Homo sapiens: one gene and its partners. The protein of the gene in region 3 interacts with the protein of the main gene of each other region in a pairwise test. Each region holds a gene or a part of one and is shown on either strand. Other genes may lie near its edges.

What was found.
Region 1: the proteins of TTC19 (region 3) and CIMIP1 interact in binary tests that used the Homo sapiens proteins (3 or more experiments, as listed by UniProt).
Region 2: the proteins of TTC19 (region 3) and CCDC33 interact in a two-hybrid assay, tested with the Homo sapiens proteins (2 studies listed by BioGRID and IntAct).
Region 4: the proteins of TTC19 (region 3) and SHISA6 interact in binary tests that used the Homo sapiens proteins (3 or more experiments, as listed by UniProt).
Region 5: the proteins of TTC19 (region 3) and EIF4ENIF1 interact in binary tests that used the Homo sapiens proteins (3 or more experiments, as listed by UniProt).
Region 6: the proteins of TTC19 (region 3) and UPF3B interact in a two-hybrid assay, tested with the Homo sapiens proteins (one large-scale study listed by BioGRID and IntAct).

Annotation. Positions count from the first base shown.
Region 1 is NC_000020.11:58,149,475-58,153,701, forward strand, and holds the start of CIMIP1 (ciliary microtubule inner protein 1), read left to right. Parts: upstream 1-1,427; 5' UTR 1,428-1,490; coding exon 1,491-1,558; intron 1,559-4,069; coding exon 4,070-4,151; intron 4,152-4,227.
Region 2 is NC_000015.10:74,274,326-74,277,825, reverse strand, and holds part of CCDC33 (coiled-coil domain-containing protein 33), read right to left. Parts: intron 1-3,500.
Region 3 is NC_000017.11:16,006,324-16,009,823, reverse strand, and holds part of TTC19 (tetratricopeptide repeat protein 19, mitochondrial isoform 1 precursor), read right to left. Parts: intron 3,351-3,500; coding exon 3,256-3,350; intron 847-3,255; coding exon of another isoform or gene 818-846; exon of another isoform or gene 760-817; intron 1-759. UniProt on the Homo sapiens protein: Required for the preservation of the structural and functional integrity of mitochondrial respiratory complex III by allowing the physiological turnover of the Rieske protein UQCRFS1.
Region 4 is NC_000017.11:11,555,713-11,559,212, forward strand, and holds part of SHISA6 (protein shisa-6 isoform 1 precursor), read left to right. Parts: intron 1-27; coding exon 28-180; intron 181-2,041; coding exon 2,042-2,592; 3' UTR 2,593-3,500. UniProt on the Homo sapiens protein: Involved in maintenance of high-frequency synaptic transmission at hippocampal CA3-CA1 synapses.
Region 5 is NC_000022.11:31,438,867-31,441,854, forward strand, and holds the end of EIF4ENIF1 (eukaryotic translation initiation factor 4E transporter), read right to left. Parts: coding exon 2,908-2,988; intron 2,003-2,907; coding exon 1,838-2,002; intron 1,256-1,837; coding exon 1,014-1,255; 3' UTR 501-1,013; downstream 1-500. UniProt on the Homo sapiens protein: EIF4E-binding protein that regulates translation and stability of mRNAs in processing bodies (P-bodies). Plays a key role in P-bodies to coordinate the storage of translationally inactive mRNAs in the cytoplasm and prevent their degradation.
Region 6 is NC_000023.11:119,835,964-119,839,463, forward strand, and holds part of UPF3B (regulator of nonsense transcripts 3B), read right to left. Parts: intron 2,565-3,500; coding exon 2,404-2,564; intron 2,089-2,403; coding exon 1,794-2,088; intron 1-1,793. UniProt on the Homo sapiens protein: Involved in nonsense-mediated decay (NMD) of mRNAs containing premature stop codons by associating with the nuclear exon junction complex (EJC) and serving as link between the EJC core and NMD machinery.

The DNA of each region.
Region 1 (4,227 bases), on a different chromosome or scaffold from region 3:
CTTGGAGAACAGTCCAGGAAGAAAATCCCAGCTTCCTGCCTAGAGATCTGTCCACCCTCTTGCTAGCCCACTAGCTTGCAGTTGGCTCAGCCGTGGACCTGGGATGTTATATATTCATTAATTAATCAATTCAGCTCCGATGCCAGCCTCTGCTTGCCCACTCACTAATCCAGCTGAGGGACAGTTGGGACCACCCTAATACTGGGCGTGGGCCAGGCATTTCCAACAGCCAAGAAAAGCACCATGTGCTATGAAGGGAAAACACACTAGCTGAGCTCCCCTCTAAACACCACACATAAGTACAAATCTGTTGATAAGGGAAGAGGCCATGGAGATGGACTAGGGAGAGTCTCAGATACCTAACTGGTGGATACACACACTGGCATCCTCCCAGACCAGTGCCCTGGTAATTATCTAGGAGGTGACCTGTAGCTCAACTGAGTCATGCTTCCTCCTCTCTCAGTCCCCCGAGGCAGGCTCTGGACACCTGCTCATCTCATGGCTGCTCAGCCAGAAAAATGTCCTCCTACATCGTGTAGATGATCCCCTTGCTGTTGTCTCAGAGCCATTTTCCAGCTCTGGGTCCACAACAATGGGGGTATGGTAGAAACCTAGGGGGTCAATGAATCAGTCAAAAAACACTGGCTGAGCACCCCAGCGATAGAGTGATTACTGCCTATAGGCAGGGAAAAAGAGTGTGGGGTGGTGGGGTCTGGAGGTAACATTATCCGTGAATTTCATTTAGGGATTGTTACAAAGAGTGGACGCCAACCAAAACGCATATTTTCTCCAAAGACATGTGCAGTAATATTTTAGCAGCACTTTTGTGGTGGCCAAAAACTCAATGCAACGCCCATCAGCAAATACTGTTCAGGAGCAGAAATGGACGCTAGGGCCACTCACAGCAACGGGGATGCTCTCTCAATCATGACACTGGGCAAAGGCAGCCAGGCACAAAGGAGAACATCTGGATGGTTCCACTCACACAAAGTTCAAATCACAGCAAAGCTAATCTTTGCAGAGGGAAGTCAATGAGAGCCAGGGAGGACGGTGACCCTGGGGGCCACTGGGGGAGGCTGGCAATGCTTTGTTTTCTAATCTCCAGGTGACGGTTACAGGCGAGTCCTCTCTTTGACATACTCAATTAAGCTCTGTACACTTGAGCGTCTGTCCACTCGTAGGTGTGCATACTTCCACTGCGGATTTAAACTTTCAAAGAAGTCTAGGGTGTTAGGTCTGGAGGTTTCCCCAAGGTTTTCCACAGATGAGCAAATGGGCCTAGAGGTGGACAAAGGGCCCAGACGTGAGCAAAGGATGGCAGCAAGCCCGGACCCAAGCGACGCGGCGAAAGCACAGCGACCCCACCCTCGCCAGGTGCAGAGCCATTTCCGCCTCCGAGTCCTGCGTTGCCTGGCAACCGGTCTCCCAGGAGACGCGAGACGCTGAGCCCAGGGCCAGAGCTTGCGGGGCGCACAGAGCCCCCAGGCCTCATGGCGCAGAAACCTCTCAGCACCGCGGCGGCTGAACGCATGAACCTTGTGGGTCAGGATGAGATCTGGTAACGCCTGGGATCGGGCAACGCGGTGGGCTCCTGTTCTCACCTGAAGTGTCCACATCTGGGGTCTCAGTTTCCCCACCAAGTCCGGGAAGTGATCGACCACTAAACTCGAGGGGCAGAGGGGCGTGCGCTGAGGATGGTCAGGGGCCTTGAGGAAAGGGGTCAATGTTAGGGACATGAGAGCGACAGGAGGGCCTTTCTCCGTCTCCTTCTCCCTCTCCTGTTGGGCCCACCACGAAGACGTGGGAGATTGGCTTTCAACAATCAGCAGAGATTGGCTTGTTGAAATCCAACTAACATGTTCATGTTTTTTTTTTTTCTTCAAATCTCAGCATCCAACCAGAACGTGTTCATGTTTTTAAGACTGATGATTTTTGTTTGTTTGTTTGTTTGTTTTTTGAGATGGAGTCCTGCTCTATCCTCCAGGCTGGAGTGCAGTGGCGCGATCTCGGCTCACTGCAACCTCTGCCTCCTGGGTTCAAGCAATTCTCTGCCTCAGCTTCCCGAGTAGCTGGGATTACAGGCGCCCACCACCACACCCGGCTAATGTTTTTGTATTTTTAGTAGAGACGGGCTTTCACCATCTTGGCCAGGCAGGTCTTGAATTCCTGACGTCGTGATCCACCCGCCTCGGCCTCCCAAAGTGTTAGGATTGCATGCGTGAGTCACCGCGCCTGGCCAAATTTTTTTTTAAAAAAAGAAAGCAAAAATCCTAATATTTGTTAAATTTGAATGAAGTACATGAAAATCCCTTGATTCTCCTGGGTTTTTAAGTAATATATTTTAACTTTAAAGATACATCCATTTTCTAAAAGATGTATGTCTAGCAGACATTTGTCGTGGATATTTTAATTGGCATGCTATCTGCTACGTATTATTGCATCTCTTTGAAAGTTTAACTCATATGGGAATTTACAGATTTAGATATAAGTAAGTTGTAGTAACAATAAAACATACTTGTTTACCTTCTAAACTTCAGTTATCCTATTTACCCTCTCTATAATTTTTACCATTTCCTTGTAAAACCTCTATTAGTCACTTCATATGTGTCTTTAAATTGTTTTCACTTGATGATTTTATGGAAAACTTCATATCACTCTCATAAATAGAAAACCTTTATCATTTGGCATAAAATACACAACTATTTTTTACTAAATCTTTATCCAAGTGTCCCAATAGGAGATGCTGCCACAGCAGGATCTGTTCCCTCTGTCTGAAATGCCCCTTCCTCTCTTCTTCACCATACAAACTTCTGCTCATCCTTCAAGACCCAAATCTAAGTGACCCCTCCTCTTTGAATAGGGCCCTTGGCTACCTAACACTTAAATTGTAACTGGTCCAAATTGGGTTCAGCCGTTAAGTGTAAACTGCGTGACAAATTACGATGATTTATTTAAAAAAAAAAAAGATTATTTAAGTGACTGTCAGCCGGATGCAGTGGCTCACACCTGTAATCCCAGCACTTTGGGAGGCCGAGGCCAGGAGTTGAAGACCAGCCTGGCCAACATGGTGAAACCCCATCTCTACTAAAAATACAAAATTATCCAGGCATGGTGGCACACACCTGTAATCCCAGCTACTCAGGAGGCTGAGGCAGGAGAATTGCTTGAACCCAGGAGGCGGAGGTTGCAGTGAACCTAGATTGTGCCATCGCACTCCATCCTAGGCAAAAAAAAGGCGAAACTCCATCAAAAAAAAAAAAAAAAAAAAAAAGACTGTCACCTGTTTATTCTTATGTTCTTTTTAATGTAGTTACTAGAACATTTCAAATTGTGTATGCAGCTCATGTTTGTGGCTTATGTTACATCTTGATTGAAATAGACTCTGCCTTAGATGCTCACTGCCCAGGGCAAAGAGTTGACCAGGGTCTCCGAAACTGTGGGGTAGGGATATGCTGATATTGATTCCAAGATAGAAGAAACTAGAAAACTCAAAACGATTGAATGTTTAATTTGATGTTTGCAAAATGTGGCACGTGGGCTCGTCTACTGCAATGCCACTCAGCTCATGGGTAGTTAGATATAAACAATATTAGCATGGAGCAAAAGCAAGGTCGGATTAGGGTGGGGCAAGTGAGGCACTTGCGCTGCAATATTTAGGAAATGCTCCACGTCAAGGTCATGCAGACGCTGTCTCTGCACTTGCAGGAAGCAGGGAGTGAGTGCCTCCTCCACTTTTGCACCTCCTCAAATTTTGAGTCATAAGGGCCTCCAAAATAAGAGATCTGGTACCTAGAAGGCTCCTCAGGCAGAATCGGCCCCCAGACTGGCCCTTACCCGGCATTCCCTCTCAGCCGTAACAGCCAACCAGCATCTCTCTTTCGTTAGCCACGTGTCTCCCTTGCTGGTGGGAGGTGCTCAGCATCAGAGGTTCTCACGCTGTCTGGCTCCTCACTCCGTCCCTGGTGCAGAACCACTGCCCAGTCAATGTTCGTGGAGAATGGAAATGTCCCCCACAGACCCCTTGAACCTTTTTCCGTGTTGCCCAGCACTCAGGAACTTTCTTTTTCAGGAAATACCGTCTGAAGGCTGAATCGGAAGCACGGCAGAACTGGCCCCAGAACTGGGGGTTTTTAACAACCCCTTTTGAGGAGGTAAATATAAATTGTATGAGCCCCAAGGTTACAGAATCAATCATTTCAAAGAATGAATGATTACAAAGTCTATCAC
Region 2 (3,500 bases), on a different chromosome or scaffold from region 3:
AGCCTATGAAGCCAGAGGTGGTGAGTGGCTGCCGGCCCAATAAGGAACAGCCCTTTCCCTGAGTAGTTTCCCAGGGCAAGTCACTTAGGAAAGATCACTTCAGACCTAGGACTGGGGAGGGAGGGTCAGCCTGTCTTGTGCATGTGCAGGCAGGAGTGGTGGGAACTCAAAGTTAGAAGACCTGCAGTCTGACGCCAGAGCCCTGGTGAGGGTACTGTGGCTGATGTGTGTGCAGGATGGGGGCGGGGAGAGGCAGGCATCGCCTGCAGATGCTAATGGAAGGGCCACAGCGGTAGTGGAATTATGGAATGTCATTAACCCTCAGCTGTGATCTTCAGAAAAGCCATTAACCCCCAGCCATGGAGGCAGACCTGCTTCCCCTGGGGACAGAGCCTTCATTCCATGGCCCCTCCACGCCCACCGCCTTATTTCCCCTGGGCCCACCCACATCCACCTCTGCCTGCTCTGCCCAGGCATAGTGGCCGCCATCTGGAGGAGTAGCTGCTGGGAGCAGATGCTGGGCTGGGGTCTCTAGGGATCTAGGACCCCTTGGCTCTGGGTCTGGGTCTGCCTCAACCTTGCTGTGTGGCCTTCAAGTCCCTTCTCCTCTTTGGGACCTACTTTTCCCATCATCCCATGGGGATATGCCTCAAACTCCTCACTTTGAAAGCCTGTTGTAAGGTTAAAGGAGACAATGGATGTTTTGCTATTAAGATGTAAGTTCAACTTCACTGAACTCAGCAAATGTTGACTCTGGGGGGCTTCTCCATTCCAGATGCCTGTGGGGTGCTGTAGAGCCAGACTCTGCCCCCGACCCTGTAGCCCACCATCATCCAGGAGGATAGGGGACAGACAGACAGACAGACAGACAGACACACACACACAAACATGTAGAGTCCTAAGCAAGCTGTGGTTGTGGGAGCTGGGGTGTGCGAGGAGAAAGCCATGACTTCTGACCCCATTCCTCAGGGAGGACCTGAAGGACAAGGGCAGTAGGTAAGGAAGAGGAAGGCCATTCCAGACTGCGAGTGCAGCAGAGGTGGAGGCTGGAGGTGGGAAGGGGCAGTGTGGGTGTGGAGAACAGCAAGCTGTCCAGTGGGGCTGCAGAATGCCTGTATGAGCTGGAGCCATAAGCCAGGAGGCTGGAGGGCACAGGGCCTGTGGACCTGGCTGAGAGTGGGATTTGCCTTGTCGTGATAGTAACAGGGGGCCCAGGGGAAGGGCTAGGCAGGGGATGCCCTGGCTGCTCCTCAGAGAATGGATGGCAGGGGCCTGAGGGGAGGCTAGCACTAGGGCAGGGTCTGTGGGGATGGAAGGGGCCCCAGGAGAGCTTGGGGACAGGCCAGCTGTGGGGCTGAGAGAGGAGGGGATGGTGGTGGGCACACATGGCTTCCCGGAGCTCCACTCCAGCTCTGTAGGAGACCAGAACAACAGGAGCAGCCTGTTGGGCAATGGGCCCCTTCCAAGGTGCCGGGGTAGGAGTAACTTACACGGCCCACCCTATGTTGGTTCCAGCAGGCTGGACCAGGTGAAGTCCGACAGGCCATCTACCCCTTAACTCACCAGTTCAGCCTTTGCCATCATCACCAGGCTCCACTGAGGGCCACCTAGCCCACCACCATGCCCCTCCTTGCCTCATCACCAGCAGATGGCCCTTGGGTTCGGGTGGCTCCGCCTCCATAACCTTCCACATTTATACCAGCAAGGCAGAGCCACACCCCTCCTTAGTGATTGGCTCAGGGAAGTGCATGTAACCCAATCCTGGCTAATCAGACAGGAAGGAGGTCTGCTGAGGGATGGCTGGGTAAGGTTGGTTTCCAGTTGCTCTTTAAAACCACCTACAAGAAGAGAGGGTGCTGCTGGGTGCGGTGCCTCAGGCCTGTAATTCCAGCACTTTGGGAGGCCAAGGTGGGCGTATCGCCAGAGGTCGGGAGTTCAAGATCAGCCTGGTTAACATGGTTGAACCCTATCTCTACTAAATATACAAAATTAGCTGGGCATGGTGGCGCTCGCCTGTAATCCCAGATACTCGGGAGGCTGAGGCAGGAGAATTGCTTGAACCCAGGAGGCAGAGGTTGCAGTGTGAGCCAGGATTGCGCCACTGCACTCCAGCCTGGGGGACAGAGACTTGGTCGCAAAAAAAAAAAGAGAGGCTGCCTCTTATCTGCTGGTCTTTCATTCTATTTGGATGAAGTGCCCCCATGAGCCGTTAGCCAGCTGAAGATGGTAATTCGGGGTGTTGGAAAGATCCTGAGACCTCGAGGATGCTTCTGAGCCTGAGCATCCACCAATTCTGGCAGCATTCTATGTCGTGAGTTGATGTGGTGTGTGACAATAAATATCCTTAGTATTTAAGCCGATCCAAGTTGGGGTTTCTGTTACTTGGAGCCAGATGTGAAAAGGGCAGTGGTGAGGCTGGCCTCAGAGGGGACACTGGCACTAGGGGAGGTACAGCTCTGTTAAGAGTGGAACCCATTTACCTTGGACCCTGGGCCTGGACACTTTGCAAAGATTATCCTTTGAGTTCTCCTAACAGATTGGAATCAATGAGTCTGGAGAAAGGAGCAGCTTACCAAAGGTCATGCAGCCAGTAAGTTACAGAGCTGGGGTCAAACCCAGGTCAAACAGTGCTTTTGCACAGTGACAGTTGGTGAGAAATCACAGCCCCCCAAGATGTCAGAGAGGGCAGGCCCTAAAATTACCAAGTCCAATCCCACCCCCTCAAGTGTAGAGATGAGGGGACTGACGCTCAAAGGGAACAGGGCAGGGGTCTGTGTGAAGACTGAGCTCACGCTGCTGACTGGTGCCCCTCCAGGTATGGCTCTGCCCGGGCAATCCCCACCCCTCCTTACCACAGCAGCCTGCTCCTGTTCTCTCACTGCTGCACCTGGGCACCTCTGTGCCAGCTGCCAGCAAATTCCCAACCTGGCCCAGCTGCCATGGGGTTGGGTGATGTTCAACAGGTGTCCTGCCATTGCTGGACCGGGTCCCACACATGCAAAAGGCACTGGGAACAAGTCTCTGTAGTGAGTGGCACCTCTCCTACCCAGACTAGTTAGGCAGCAAAGGCAGCCAGAGAAAGCCTGGGGGTGGGAGGGGGCACACTCATTAAAGCAGGCAGTGCCTCTTGCCCCTTGGGACAGCCTGCTGATTGGTTCTTAATTTTCTGGGCAAATGCAGGGCCATGTGTGAGGTAACTCTAGGGAAATCAGGCAAAGGATTGGTTTGGGTTTGAAGCCTCTGTCCCCAGGGTCCCCCTTTGTCCCACTCCTCCCCACCACCATCACTCTACCCCATGTCTGAGCCTTCTTCAAATGTCTTTGCCTTTAAATGAAGCCTGGGCTCCAAAGGGGTGTCTTGTTCTATTTTTGCTATGCCAGACATAAGCACTGGTGGGCAGACAATAGGAGGGACCTCCAAAAATCCCTCTGTCCCCCAAGGCCCCTAGGAATGTTGGGACCATCGTGTAGGGCAAGCTGGCAGTGAAGCGCAGATCATGA
Region 3 (3,500 bases):
AAGTACATATATGTCTACAACATAGGTAACAAAATAATTATCCTAGAGCAAGGTTTTATGTAATTAAGTAATGTAATTTTATGTAATTAAGTAATGTTATCCTAGAATAGAGATAGTTGTGTCAATAAAAAGCACGTAAATTTGATAATGGATTTGCTTTGTGCAAAACTGAATAGGTAGGAATTCCTTTTCTAGAAAAAATAAGATGAAGAATCATGTAACACATTTTCTATACTGTGCAACTAGTAAAATGTAAAAATAATATTTATAATAGAAATTAGCTTGCTCTATCTAACAAGAATTCCTTTGCCTGGAAAAAAAAAGTGTTTTCATAATATGTTACTAAATTGTTAAAACTCAGGTTACAAAGTAGGATATACAGTATCATCCCAAATTTATTTCTTAAAATGTAACCCGAAAAGCCGTAGTAATAAATAAAACAGTAGCTCTTTCTTAATAGTATGATTACAGATGATTTTTACTTAGTGCTTTTCTAAACTTTCTTCAGTGTTTACTGGTATTATTTTTTGAATCAGAAAATATAGCTTTACACTCCTAAGAAACCATAGTCAACACTATAAATGAAAGACAGCAAAGGTGTAAATAGTTCAGAAGTGACTTACTTGACAGCTAGACTTGTTTTTACACCTCTTGTGGATTTCCTCAAAGCACTTCCACACTGCACTGAAACTGGATTTATTTGCTGGTCTTTCTTGGGTCTTTTGTTCTTTCATTCAGTAATTATTGAGCCTCTATTATGTGCCAGGCACTGTTCTAGGCACCGAGGATTTAGCACTGAGTATAATGGATGAAGTCTCTATCCTTCTTTGATATGGAAGACAAAGACTAAAAATTTTTAAACAAAAACATACTTTTAGTGGAGAAACACAAGCACACAACACACACACCTCTACTTTTAAGTGTGATGAAGAAAAGTAAAGGAAAGAGGAGTAGAGCAATAGTAAGGTGGGAAGAGATGATAGTTTTAGTGAAGGGAGCACTCTGAGGAAGTGCTATTTGAGCAGAGACCTGAGTGAAGTACGGGAGTTGGCCAGAGAAAGGTAAGAGAGAACAGTCTAGGTAGGGGGAATATCAAGCAAAGAGGCCTTGAGGTGGCACTAAGCTTGGAATGTGCCAGAATAAGACCAGTGTGGTGAGACTGGAACGAGCAAGGGGAGAGCAGCAGATGGCATGGAAGAGGTGGGTGGGCCCAGGTCATAAGCGCCTTACAGGTCCATGCAGGGATTCTAAATTTATTCTAAAGGTGATACAAAGGTACTGAGGTCTTGAAACAGTGATGGCCTGGACCAAAGCAGTAGGGTAATGGGATGAGACATGGTCAGTATGGATATATTTTGATGGCTGATCCAGTATAACTTGCTGATGGATTAGATATGAGGAATGAGGAAGAAATCATGGACAATTCTTAGGTTCTTGGCCAAAGCAACTAAATGAGTAGTGTGCCATTTACAAATCTGGGGCTGACTGGTGACGAAACAAGTTGTGAGCGGCAAAACTGAGACCTATTTTGGACATGTTAAGTATGAGATGACCATTAGACTTCAAGTCAAGATGTCGGGTGGGCAATCATAATTATAAGTCTGCCATTTGGGGGCAAGTTGGGGCTGAAGGTATAAATCTAATATTTAAAACTATGGAACTAAAAGATATCTCCTAGGTGTTGGGGCAGAGAGAAAAGAGAATAGGGCTGAAAACAGCCCTAAGGCGTGCCAACATTAAGAGGTAGGGAAGTCTATTCACCTCACTAGAGAGACCAGTGAGGCATCCCAGAAGCCAAGTGAAAGTATTTTCAGTAGGAGACAGTGATCCCCTAAGTTAAAGCTGCTGATGAGTAAGTTAAGGATTGAGAAGTAACCATTGGATTTGGTGACTTTGATAAAGGTAGCTTCAGTGGAGTGATGAAAACAAAAAAATTGGTGTACAGTGATCCCTCCTACTCCACAGTTTCATTTTCTGGGGTTTCAGTTATCTGCAGTCAACCAGAGTCCGAAAAATATTAAATGAAAAATTCAAGAAATAATCCGTAAGTTTTTAAATTGCATGCCATTCTGGGTGGCATGAAGAAATCTTACACTGTCACACTCCATCCTGCCCAGGACATGAATCATCTTTGTCCAGTGTACCCAAGTTGTATACGGCAGCTGGCCTCAGTCACTTAGCAGCAGTCTCAGTTATCAGATCAACCCACAATGTTGCAGTACTTGTGCTCAAGCAATCCATATTTTACATAATGGCCCCAAAGTGTGAGAGTGGTGATACTGGCAATTTGAATATGACAAAGAGAAGTCATAAAGTGCTTCCTTTTAATGAAAAGGTGAAAGTTCTCAACTTAGTAAGAAAACAAAAAACAAAAAACAAAAAACTGTATGCTGAGGTTGATAAGATCTACAATAAGAATGAATCTCCTGTCTGTGACACTGTTAACAGTATATAGTTATAATTGTTCTATTAAAAGTTATTGTTGTTAATCTCTTACTGTGCCTAACTTATAAATTAAACTTTATCATAGGTACATATATATAAGAAAAAAACACAGTGTATTAGAAGTCGTTTCAGGCATCTGCTGGGGGTCTTGGAACATATTCCCCATGGATAACGGGGGACTACTCTATGTTCAAGAGAGAGTTAGAAGACCACTAGGTACAGAAGAGTTGACTGCTGTATCCCTACCATCTCGGTAGCTCTTGGTATAGAGTAGGTATTGAATAAATGTCAAATCTGAAAATTCTCAATACTTCAACCCAAATTAAGAAACCCAAAATGGTGGAGAGCTAGAGAGCTTCCTGCTCATCCAGTTCTATTCCTAGCCTCCAGAATGAGTGAGGATGGATTGTAAAAACATGAGCTTTTTTTCTCTTCTTTCTTAATTTGCTGTATATCTAGGGCTAAAACGTAATAAGCATTTTGATTGGTAGCTGAACTAAGAGATACGAGAAACACCTTCTCCTTCTGCTCCCCAATTTTCCTTAAGTTATATGTAACTAAAAGTTAACAAATAAATTATGACCATGTTACCAAGGGGGTTAAAAAAAAAACCACCACCAAAACAGCAGTCAAATATTTTAAATAAAACATCTTATTCCAAAACTTCTGCTGATACCTTAAAGACAGACACTTATTTTGCAAAATAGGTAACTTTCCCTCTTCCCAATTTAGATCTCTTTCCATTTCTCAAAAGTGTAAAGTAAAGCCTTTTGTGGAGAAAAGGCAATGCCCAGATAATGGGTTTCCTACCTGACATAATGTCTTCTGCTAATTCCTTTTCTCTTTCAATTTTTTCCTCTAGAGTTGAAATGCAGAATTCATAGCCAGCAACAGCAAATTCCTGTCTGTAAAGCAAAATCAATAATCAGCCATTTACCTTTTCTTCTTTTTTTTTTCTTCCTTCTGTTGAGATGGAGTTTCGCTCTTGTTGCCCAGGCTGGAGTGCAATGGCGTGACCTCGGCTCAGAGCAACCTCCACCTCCGGGGTTCAAGCG
Region 4 (3,500 bases), 4.5 Mb from region 3:
ACAAAACACCCCTCCCTTTTCTTGCAGAGAAGCCACGGATGAACAACATCCTGACATCAGCCACCGAGCCCTATGACCTCTCCTTCTCCCGCTCGTTCCAGAACTTGGCCCACCTGCCCCCATCCTACGAGTCTGCAGTAAAGACCAACCCCAGCAAGTATTCATCTCTGAAGAGGCTAAGTAAGTTGAATTTCCCCCAAGTTGGGGTCTGTCTCTGGGGCTCCAAGATATCTTCCTATGTCACACTCTCTTGCTCCATACCCCATAGGACAGCTGTCAAATCCCAAGAATAAAGAAGGAGTTGCAGGATGAGAGAAGAGAATAGACAAGCTCTTTGCTTTTGTTCCTTATGGACTGAGCCCATTCTTTCCATACATAGAAAGAAGACCATGGAATCCTCAGATTCACATCCCTATAGGAGACGGCCTTCCAATTCATGCACCAGTTTAACTGCGGGAGAAAGCCTTCTCCCAGTCCCGCACGCAACTGCCTTCTTCAAACCATGGGCCTTCCTTGCTGTATACCCTATACTGGATAGAGGCTAGCAATGGCCAGAACTTTCTCTGAGACCTCTCCCAGAGGCCCACAAACCAGCTCCTTCTCCAACCCAGCCAACAGTGTCTTGAGGACCTGAGATCCTTCACCTCCCATGCATACACCCCATTTCACCAGTTCAATCCAGTTTATCCAGTGATGCCAGCTCTGCCTCTTGAGTCTGGGGAGACTCTGGGCATCAATGGGTTAAAGATACAAAAATGTCAAAAAATTTCCCTAAAGGACAGCTCTTCCTCCCTGGCTTTCTGGCCTTGGACCTTCTCCTCCCATTTTCCCAGGAGTCTCTTTTGATGACCACCCAACTGCAGTTGGAGCCTCAAGGGCTGAGCATTTGCTTGAAAGCTTCAGGGTAACCTACCCTGACAGAAGTGCAGCCCAAGTCCACATCAGCCACCTCCATGGTGAAACGTGGAGTCTCTAGCTAGAGACGGGACTATCATAACCTGAGGAATCATCCCGAGGTGATGAAATTTGGCTCAGGAGGAAGGATACCCATCAACGACCCCGCTGCACCAACTGAAGAGCAGACAGAATTCCCACACTTTTGCAGAGATCTAGAAGGCCATGTGTAGGAGGCCTCATTTCTGAAATTTGGGGCAATGCAGGTTTGTGTGTAACCTGCAAGTTCAAGTAGGTTTGTAGCATGCAAGTCCAAGTAGGCTTGTAGCATGCAAGTTCCAGGCAAATTCAAGGGTACAGAGAGCAGTGTGAGCTTAGGAGGGCCTGCTGGATAGAGAGAAAGGTGGAGCATCTAAATGAGGCGCACATGTAAGATTACTCCAACCAGCTTGCGTTATGGGCACAGGTGGAGTGTGTGTAGGCTGATTATGTGGCTGTGTGGGGACTGGAGGCCCATGTATTGGCTTTCTATGCGTTGCCTGTTACTACAGAGAAGGTGTTACGATGTTCCTAAGTTACCAGTTAAACATTTTCACAAGTGTTTCCTAGTCTGAGCATCTTACTTTATTCTAGCCGGAGGCTGGCTCTGGACCTCATCAGGAAGCTTCAAGAGCTGCTATTTGGATGTTTTAGTAAGACAGATAGTCATTCTGTTTCAGGACCATGGTGTGGTAGATACGGCCCAGGACCAGGCGGAGTTCAGGGACTTGGGCTTGCTATCAACTCTGCCCTGAACACACTGGGGATTCTGAGGAAGTCCCTTAACATATCCCTACTCAAGGTGGTCTATGTACCAGAGGCTTTTAGCATTACCTGGGAGCTTGTTAGAGATGCAAACTCTTGGGCCCACCCCAGACCCACTGAATTAGAATCTGCATTTAACAAGCCCCCAGAGAATGGTTTGCACATTCAATGGGAAAATACACCCTTCACCCGTCTGTCCTAATCCATAACTAAAGGAGTTTGACTGTATTATCCCTTAAGGTTGACAGGTCTGTGATGGAGCAGGAGCGGGGCAGGGTTCTATCTGAGTCCTGGCTGCAGGGTCACCCCAGTTGCCTTCTCTCACTCTGTCTCTCCCCTGCAGCCGACAAGGAGGCTGACGAGTATTACATGAGACGGCGGCACCTGCCCGACCTGGCTGCCCGCGGCACCCTCCCCCTCAATGTCATCCAGATGTCCCAACAGAAGCCGTTGCCAAGGGAACGACCCCGCCGGCCCATCCGGGCCATGTCCCAGGACAGGGTCCTGTCCCCGGATCGGGGCCTGCCAGATGAGTTCAGCATGCCCTACGACCGCATCCTGTCCGACGAGCAGCTGCTCTCCACGGAGCGCCTGCACTCCCAGGACCCGCTGCTGTCCCCGGAGCGGACGGCCTTTCCCGAGCAGTCGCTGTCCAGGGCCATCTCGCACACGGACGTCTTTGTGTCCACACCCGTGCTGGACCGCTACCGCATGAGCAAGATGCACTCTCATCCCAGTGCCTCCAATAACTCATACGCCACCCTGGGCCAGAGCCAGACGGCAGCCAAGCGTCATGCCTTTGCCTCACGCAGACACAACACGGTGGAGCAGCTGCACTACATCCCGGGCCACCACACCTGCTACACAGCCAGCAAGACCGAAGTGACCGTGTGACCGGCGGGGCAGGGCCGGGGCTGCTGGGCGTGGCAGAGCAGAGCGGGGGCCGGGAGGGGCCAGGAGCAGAGCTTCTAGCCTTGCCACTCTCCCTTCCCTTGTCCCCTCTGTAGGAAGTGGGGGTGGGCCACCTTTGCCCAAAAAGCCATACCCCCGGGGACACAGCCCCGATGGCCTGGTCCAATACACTTAGACCCAGGACCAAGAGCAATCGCTCTTGCTCCTCCAGAAGAATCAGTGGGGAGTGAGGAGGGGGCTAGGCCCCATTCTCACCCCCGACCACCTTCACCAACTCCCTTTCCGTCCCGCGCCTCCTTCTCCCCATCCGGGGGACTCAGCTGCAGGTTCTGTCAGCAGAGAGACCCTTGCTTGACTGTGGTCTGAAGCTGCCTGGGTTTGAAGGGGCCAGCGGGTCCAATCAGTGGGCTGACCGGATAGGCTACTCGGTCTCATTCATTCATCTAGAACCGCATCACAGAAATCTCCTAGTGCCTAAAAACTGCCTGCTCGCTCTCTCAGAGCCAGGGAGCTGCTGTGTCCATAAGCACAATAATGATTCTTTTCTTGCCTGCTGGAACTCTCTGGTCCCCACTGAGTGACCCTTCCTTTGCTGACCCCTGAGGGCCCAACCCTGGCCCTGTGCCCCTCCCCTCAACTCCAGGACCAGGAGGGGTTCCCTTCCTTCAGCTGCCTCCCCATTGGTGGGAACTCCACCCCCTTCCAGCTGACTGCCCGCCCATAAGGACCCTGGGCCTGTCCTTTCAGCGGGCTGTGCTCCTTCCCTGGCCCTGAGGATTTCACCCTTGAGTTTTCTGGGGTTTTGGCTGTAGCCTTCGCAGAGGGGAGTAGCAATGGGGTGCTGGCCCTCCCAGACACCCGATCATCTCCGCACTCCCTCCAGGCCTCTA
Region 5 (2,988 bases), on a different chromosome or scaffold from region 3:
TGTGGGCCACCATGCCCAGCTAGTTTTGTATTTTTAGTAGAGATGGGATTTCACCATCTTGGCTAGGATGGTCTTGATCTCTTGACCTTGTGATTCGCCTGCCTCTGCCTCCCAGAGTGCTGAGATTACAGGCGTGAGCCACAGTGCCCAATTTCCATGGGTTTTCAAGAAAAACTTAACTTACTTAAACTTCAGATCACTTCCTTAAAGGAACATACTGAGCATAGCTTGGCTGGTTAGAAATTAGGAAGACTAGCTTGGGCTACATGGTAAGACCCTGCCTCTACAAAAAATAAGAAAAAAGTTAGTGGCATGTGCCTGTAGTTCCATCTACTTGGGAGGCTGAGGTGAGAGGATCGCTTGAGCCCAGGAGGTTGAAGCTGCAGTGAGCCACGATTGCACCACTGTACTCCAGCCTGGGTGACACAGAGTGAGACCCTGTCTCCAAACAAAATTAGGAAGGGTTTCAGAGAGGAAATAAACACAACAATGTCAGTTACTTCATTCACACACTTAGCATATGCAATTTTAATCAACCAAAAGAAAATCCCAAATGTACAAGTGAAAAAAATCCAAACTGTTGACACAGGCCTAACTAATATCAGCTACTTTTATGTACAGCTGTATAGTTCAAAAAAGCTATCCTATATGTATATACAAAAGTTGTTTATACACAGGTCTGTACATAAGGGTCTATACATTTATTTCCTCAGAACCCTTAGGTGCCACCTCTTGGTGAGGACACCAACACTTCATTCACATATCTTACAAAAAAGAAAGACCATTTCCAGGATTGACAACATTGTGCATCCTGTATTCAGACAATGTACACTCCACTCGACTGGTTAAGATCCTTCCATCATAATGCGGACCACACCAGATGCATGGGTTCCACCAAACAGCTTCACACAGAGTGCTCCAAAGTAAAAGCCCATAAACCAACCCGAGATGAAGCAGGGTCCTGCCCAGTGTGCCACCACAGGTCCGGGCTTAGTTGAGTCTGCCTGCCCTGCTCACTGTCGGTATTCCAATTCATCTACACTGATAACTTTGGCGGGCATGGAGGGCAGGGGTTGCTGTAGCACATCTGAGCCAAACCATTTGGCAAGGCCCACAGGGGAGCTGCTCCTCTGGCTGGGGCGATGCTCCAGCTGGGAGTGCATGTGGGGCAGGCCTGACCGGCTGGGCACGTTCTGAGGGGTTGTCTGAACGCTGACAGCTGCTGCATGGGAACCAGAGCCTGGAGGATGCAGAACTGTGGAGATAAGAAGGGTTATCATTCACAGCATGAGAAGGAAAGTTTATTAGACCCTGCTTCATTCAAACCCTATCCAAAGAAAAGTCTTTACTAGAGGATTTTTTCTAGGGCTTCTTTAGAAACTCCTTTGCAAAATACCAACAATGCCAGAAAACAGTACCATGGAAAGCTGAGCTATTCAGAAGCTACCAGTATTGAAAACCCACCCTGGATGACATGACCGCTACTTCTCATGGCTAAGTAACCACATCACAGAAGCAGCAACATGAACTGGTGAGGGGGTATATACCCTGGGCAGGCCGGATGCTGAACCTCTGTTGGATTCTCAGCCCTCTCTCCTAACAGGCAAAGGAAAAAGCCAGAAAACACTTGGCTTTTCCCACTGACTTTGCAGGAACAGTAATCCCAAATTGCATAGAGGTCAATTTACTTCATCTTATTATCTGGTTACACTTTGTCCCAAACTTAGAACAAGTTAAAGAATGAAAGTGTTAATTCATCTCCACTGGAAACTAGTCCTCAAAGCTTCAAGACTCCCTAAGTCCGTCCCAAACTCACCTGTCACATTCCTGAACCTACCTGAGCGCTGTAGCTGCTGTTGCACCATTGCCAGATGCAGAGGTGTTCCAGGACGAGGGTTTAAGAGAGGGTGACTAGCAGCAGGTAAAGGGTAAAAGGGCTGACCCAGGATGGGGCCAGATATTCCCTGTAAATGACTCAAGTCCATCCCAGGAGGAAGCACACCTGTTGAGCAGAAAAAGCAAGCAGCTGAGTAGTCTTAATGTTACCTGGAAGTTTTCCAGCTTCACTGTACAGTTTTGCTGATCTGGAAGTTTGTTAAGAATGAAGGGCTCTGCGCAGTGGCTCACGCCTGTAATCCCCAGCACTTTGGGAGGCCAAAGCAGGCGGACCACGAGGTCAGGAGTTCGAGACCAGTATGGCCAACATGGTGAAACCCTGTCTCTACTAAAAATACAAAAATTAGCCAGGTGTAGTGGCAGGCGCCTGTAATCCCAGCTACTCGGAAGGCTGAGGCAGGGACCTAGAACTCGGGAGAGGCAGAGGTTGCAGTGAGCAGAGATCGCGCCACTGCACTCTAGCCTGGGCGACAGAGCGAGACTCAAAAAAGAATGAAGAATTCTCTGGCTCACGCCTGTAATCCTGACACTTTGGGAGGCCGATGTGGGTGGACTGCCTAAACTTAGGAGTTTGAGACCAGCCTGGGCAACACGGTGAAATCCTGTCTCTACTAAAATACAAAATAAATTATCCGGGTGTGGCGGCGTGCACCTGTAGTCCCAGCTACTCGGGAGGCTGAGGCAGGAGAATTGCTTGAACTCAGGAGGCAGAGGTTGCAGTGAGCTGAGATTGCGCCACTGCACTCCAGCCAGGCAGACAGAGTGAGACTTCTGTCTCTACAAAAAGGAAAAAAAAAAAAAAAAAAAAAAAGAATCTTCAAGCTAGGTTCCTAATCTTTTAAAGGACTAGGGGATTGACTGGATTGGGCCCACTGCCTGCCAGTTAGATGGGAGAATCTAGTAACATCTTTCTAGGGATGGAAATCTCCCACATTATAGCACTTCATCAGTGCCAACAATTGTCCCCTAGGCCCACAAACTGACGACACCCAAGTCAGGCTGGAAACTCACCAGTTTGGAGCAAACTTGGAAGATGCTGTGGATGTACTCCCTGGGCCAGCATCCTCTGTACCAACCCTGGGTGAAGCTGGT
Region 6 (3,500 bases), on a different chromosome or scaffold from region 3:
AAGACTCTGTCTCAAAAAATAAACTAAAAACAAAAGAGAACTGAAGAAGACATTTCAAGGAAGCATAATTTGTGGAATTTGTTTAGGTCCTATTAAAAAAAAGACATTAGGCTGGGCACGGTGGCTCATGCCTGTAATCCCAGCACTTTGGGAGGCTGAGGCGGGAGGATCACCTGAGGTCAGGAGTTCGAGACCAGCCTGGCCAACATGGTGAAACCCTGTCTCTACTAAAAATACAAAAATTAGCCGGGCATGGTGGCTTGAGGCTGTAGTCTCAGCTATTCGGGAGGCTGAGGCAGGAGAATCACTTGAACCCGGGAGGTGGAGGTTGTGGTGAGCTGAGATCATGCCACTGCACTCCAGCCTAGATGACAGAGCGAGACTCCATCGCAAAAAATAAATAATTAATTAATTTTAAAAAGACATTAATGAAGCAATTGGGAACATATGAACACTGAATAGACAGGACGTTAAGGAATTATTGTTAGTTTTTTTTGGTGTGAAAATGCTACTAGGGTAATATTAATAGAGTATTTATCTCATATACTGAAGTATTTAAGGAAGAAATTATGTGCAGGGTTTGTTTGAAAATAATCTAGTAGGGGTAGGGATGAAGTAGAATAGAAAGAAGGTTGGCTATGAACTGCTGGGTGATGGGTACAGTACATGGAGTTCATCATACTATTCGATTTTTTTTTTTTTTTTGAGACAGAGTCTCGCTCTGTTGCCCGTGCTGGAGTGCAGTGACGCGATCTCGGCTCACTGCAAGCTCCGCCTCCCAGGTTCACGCCATTTTCCTGCCTCAGCCTCCCGAGTAGCTGGGACTACAGGCGCCCGCCACCACGCCTGGCTAATTTTTTGTATTTTTAGTAGAGATGGGGTTTCACCATGTTAGCCAGGATGGTCTTGATCTCCTGACCTCGTGATCCACCCGTCTTGGCCTCCCAAAGTGCTGGGATTACAGGCGTGAGCCACCGCGCCCGGCCAGTTTTTTTTTTGAGACTGAGTCTCGCTCTGTTGCCCAGGCTAGAATACAATGGCGTGATCTCGGCTCACCTCAACCTCCACCTCCCAGGTTCAAGTGATTCTTCTGCCTCAGCCTCCCGAGTAGCTGAGATTACAGGTGTGCGCCACCACATCCAGCCGATTTTTTGTATTTTTAGTAGAGACGGGGTTTCACCATGTTGGCCAGGCTGGTCTAGAACTCCTAGGCTCTAGCAATCCACCCACCTCAGCCTCCCAAAGTGCTAGGATTACAGGTGTGAGCCACTGCACCTGGCCCATCATACTATTCTCTATTCTACTTTTGTGTATGTTTACAATTTCTATAGTAAGTTAATAAAAGCCCAGCCAAGACTGAAATAAAAGTTGGTCAGGCGTGGTGGCTCACGCCTGTAATCCCAGCACTTTGGGAGGCTGAGGCAGGTGGATCACGAGGTCAGGAGATCAAGACCATCCTGGCTAACACGGTGAAACCCTGTCTCTACTAAAAATACAAAAAAATAAGTCAGGCGTGGTGGTGGGCGCCTGTAGTCCCAGCTACTTGGGAGGCTGAAGCAGAAGAATGGCGTGAACCCAGGAGGCGGAGCTTGCAGTGAGCCGAGATTGTGCCACTGCACTCCAGCCTGGGCAACATAGTCAGACTCTGTCTCAAAAAAAAAAAAAAAAAAAAGTTGCAGATGATTAAAGTTCCCCTTTAAAAATTCTATAATAACAGTGCCCTTTACACTTTCTTTACACTTGCAGGAAAAGGGAAAAAAACCCTCATAAACAAGTTTAATGACAAGCAGCACCTTGTTTCTTATTCGATCTCTCTTGACCACTTCTTCTTTCTTTTCAGTTTTTTCTGAGCTGCCTATTGATTCTGTACTTTCAGCCTTCTTTCCTTTATCCCGAAGTGTGTCTTTCTCTTTTTTCATTTCTTCTTCTTTTCTCTTAAAAGTCTTCTCTTTCTCATAGCGCTCCTTCTGCCTACGGCGCTCTTCTTCTTGCCGCTTCAGCCTCTCTCTTTCTCGAAGTATGCGCTCCTGATCTCGTTCATATTCCCGTTCCCTCTCCCTATAGTCTCTGCCGCTCTCATCTTCAGGTCTGCATGAAAAACAAATCTGAGACAGAACCCTGAAAGATCTTGTAATCACAAATGCAGGAACACTGTGATTCTGATTTGGCCCCTGCAATGAGGTTGCACTTTTAGAGCAGAGTGAAAAATACTAGTGTTTTAAGAAGGAACAAAACCCCAAAACCATTCACCCAGATTAAGATACAAGAATATTCTGAAACTGTTCCTCCTCATCCCCCTGCCCTGCATAAAACAGCTTATCTTAATTCAGGTACATGTCCAGGACATAGCAGCAAAACTAGCATGTATAAATCAAACATAACAAAGAGTCCTTGACTACTGACCTCTTTGGTTTTTCATCTTTAAGTTCGCTATCAGAACGCTTGGGCAATGTACAACTTTGCCCACTGGCTCTTTCATCACTGAGATTCTCTTTGTCCAATTTCTTGGCTTTTTCTCTTTTGTCCAATTCTTTTTCATCTCCTTTTTCTGGCTTCTTGAGCAGCTTTAAAGATAAAATGTTTATTTTTATTTTGAAGGCTGGGACACTATCTTCTATTAAAAACCCAGTATACCAAATATTTAAAATTTAGACTAGACAAAGCCCCCTATCTCTGCAGGTACACTTAATCTTTCAGGTGAACAACTAGTGCATAAGAGTAGTAATTTACTAAAAGGATGCTATTAATGTTAAAGTGTTATCCACTTGAACGAAGTGGTTTAATCACTTTGTGGCAATAGGATCAAGACTCCTTTGGCTTTTATTCTGAGGCAGGGTCTCACTACTCTGTTGCCCATGCTGGAGTGCAGTGGCATGAACATGGCTCACCGCAACCTTGACCTCCTGGGCTTAAGTGGTCCTCCTGCCTCAGCCTCTTGAGTAGCTAGGACAACAGATGCACACCACCACATATGGCTAATTTTTTAATTTTTTTGTAGAGACAAGGTCTCATCATGTCACCCAGGCTGTTCTCAAACTTCTGGGCTCACACCATCCTTCTGCCTCGGCCTCCCACAGTGCTGAGATTACAGGTGTGAGCCACTGTGCCCGGCTTCCTTTGGCTTTAAATGGGTCAACCTTTAAGTGAACCAATGCATACTTCAAAGTATGCTTCTGTAGCAAACCAGCATGTTGATATAACTTAATGGGAAACAGCCCACAAATTTTAAGTGATAGGCAGATCGTTTCTGTTGGGACTGTTTTTATGTAGTACTTGGAATGACAAATACCTTGGTCACCAAAGGAGAGATCCATTGCAGGAATAATTTTGCCTTGAGCCTGAGAATAACATACTTATGATGGTACAATTATCTTGCCATTAGAGATTAATAACAAGAATTATTTGGCATTTGATTTAAAAATCTAAAGGCCTTATACAACCAAATAGTGAAGTTCCATCTCTACTGAGTAGGAACTCTGTATTTAATGCCATATTTACGC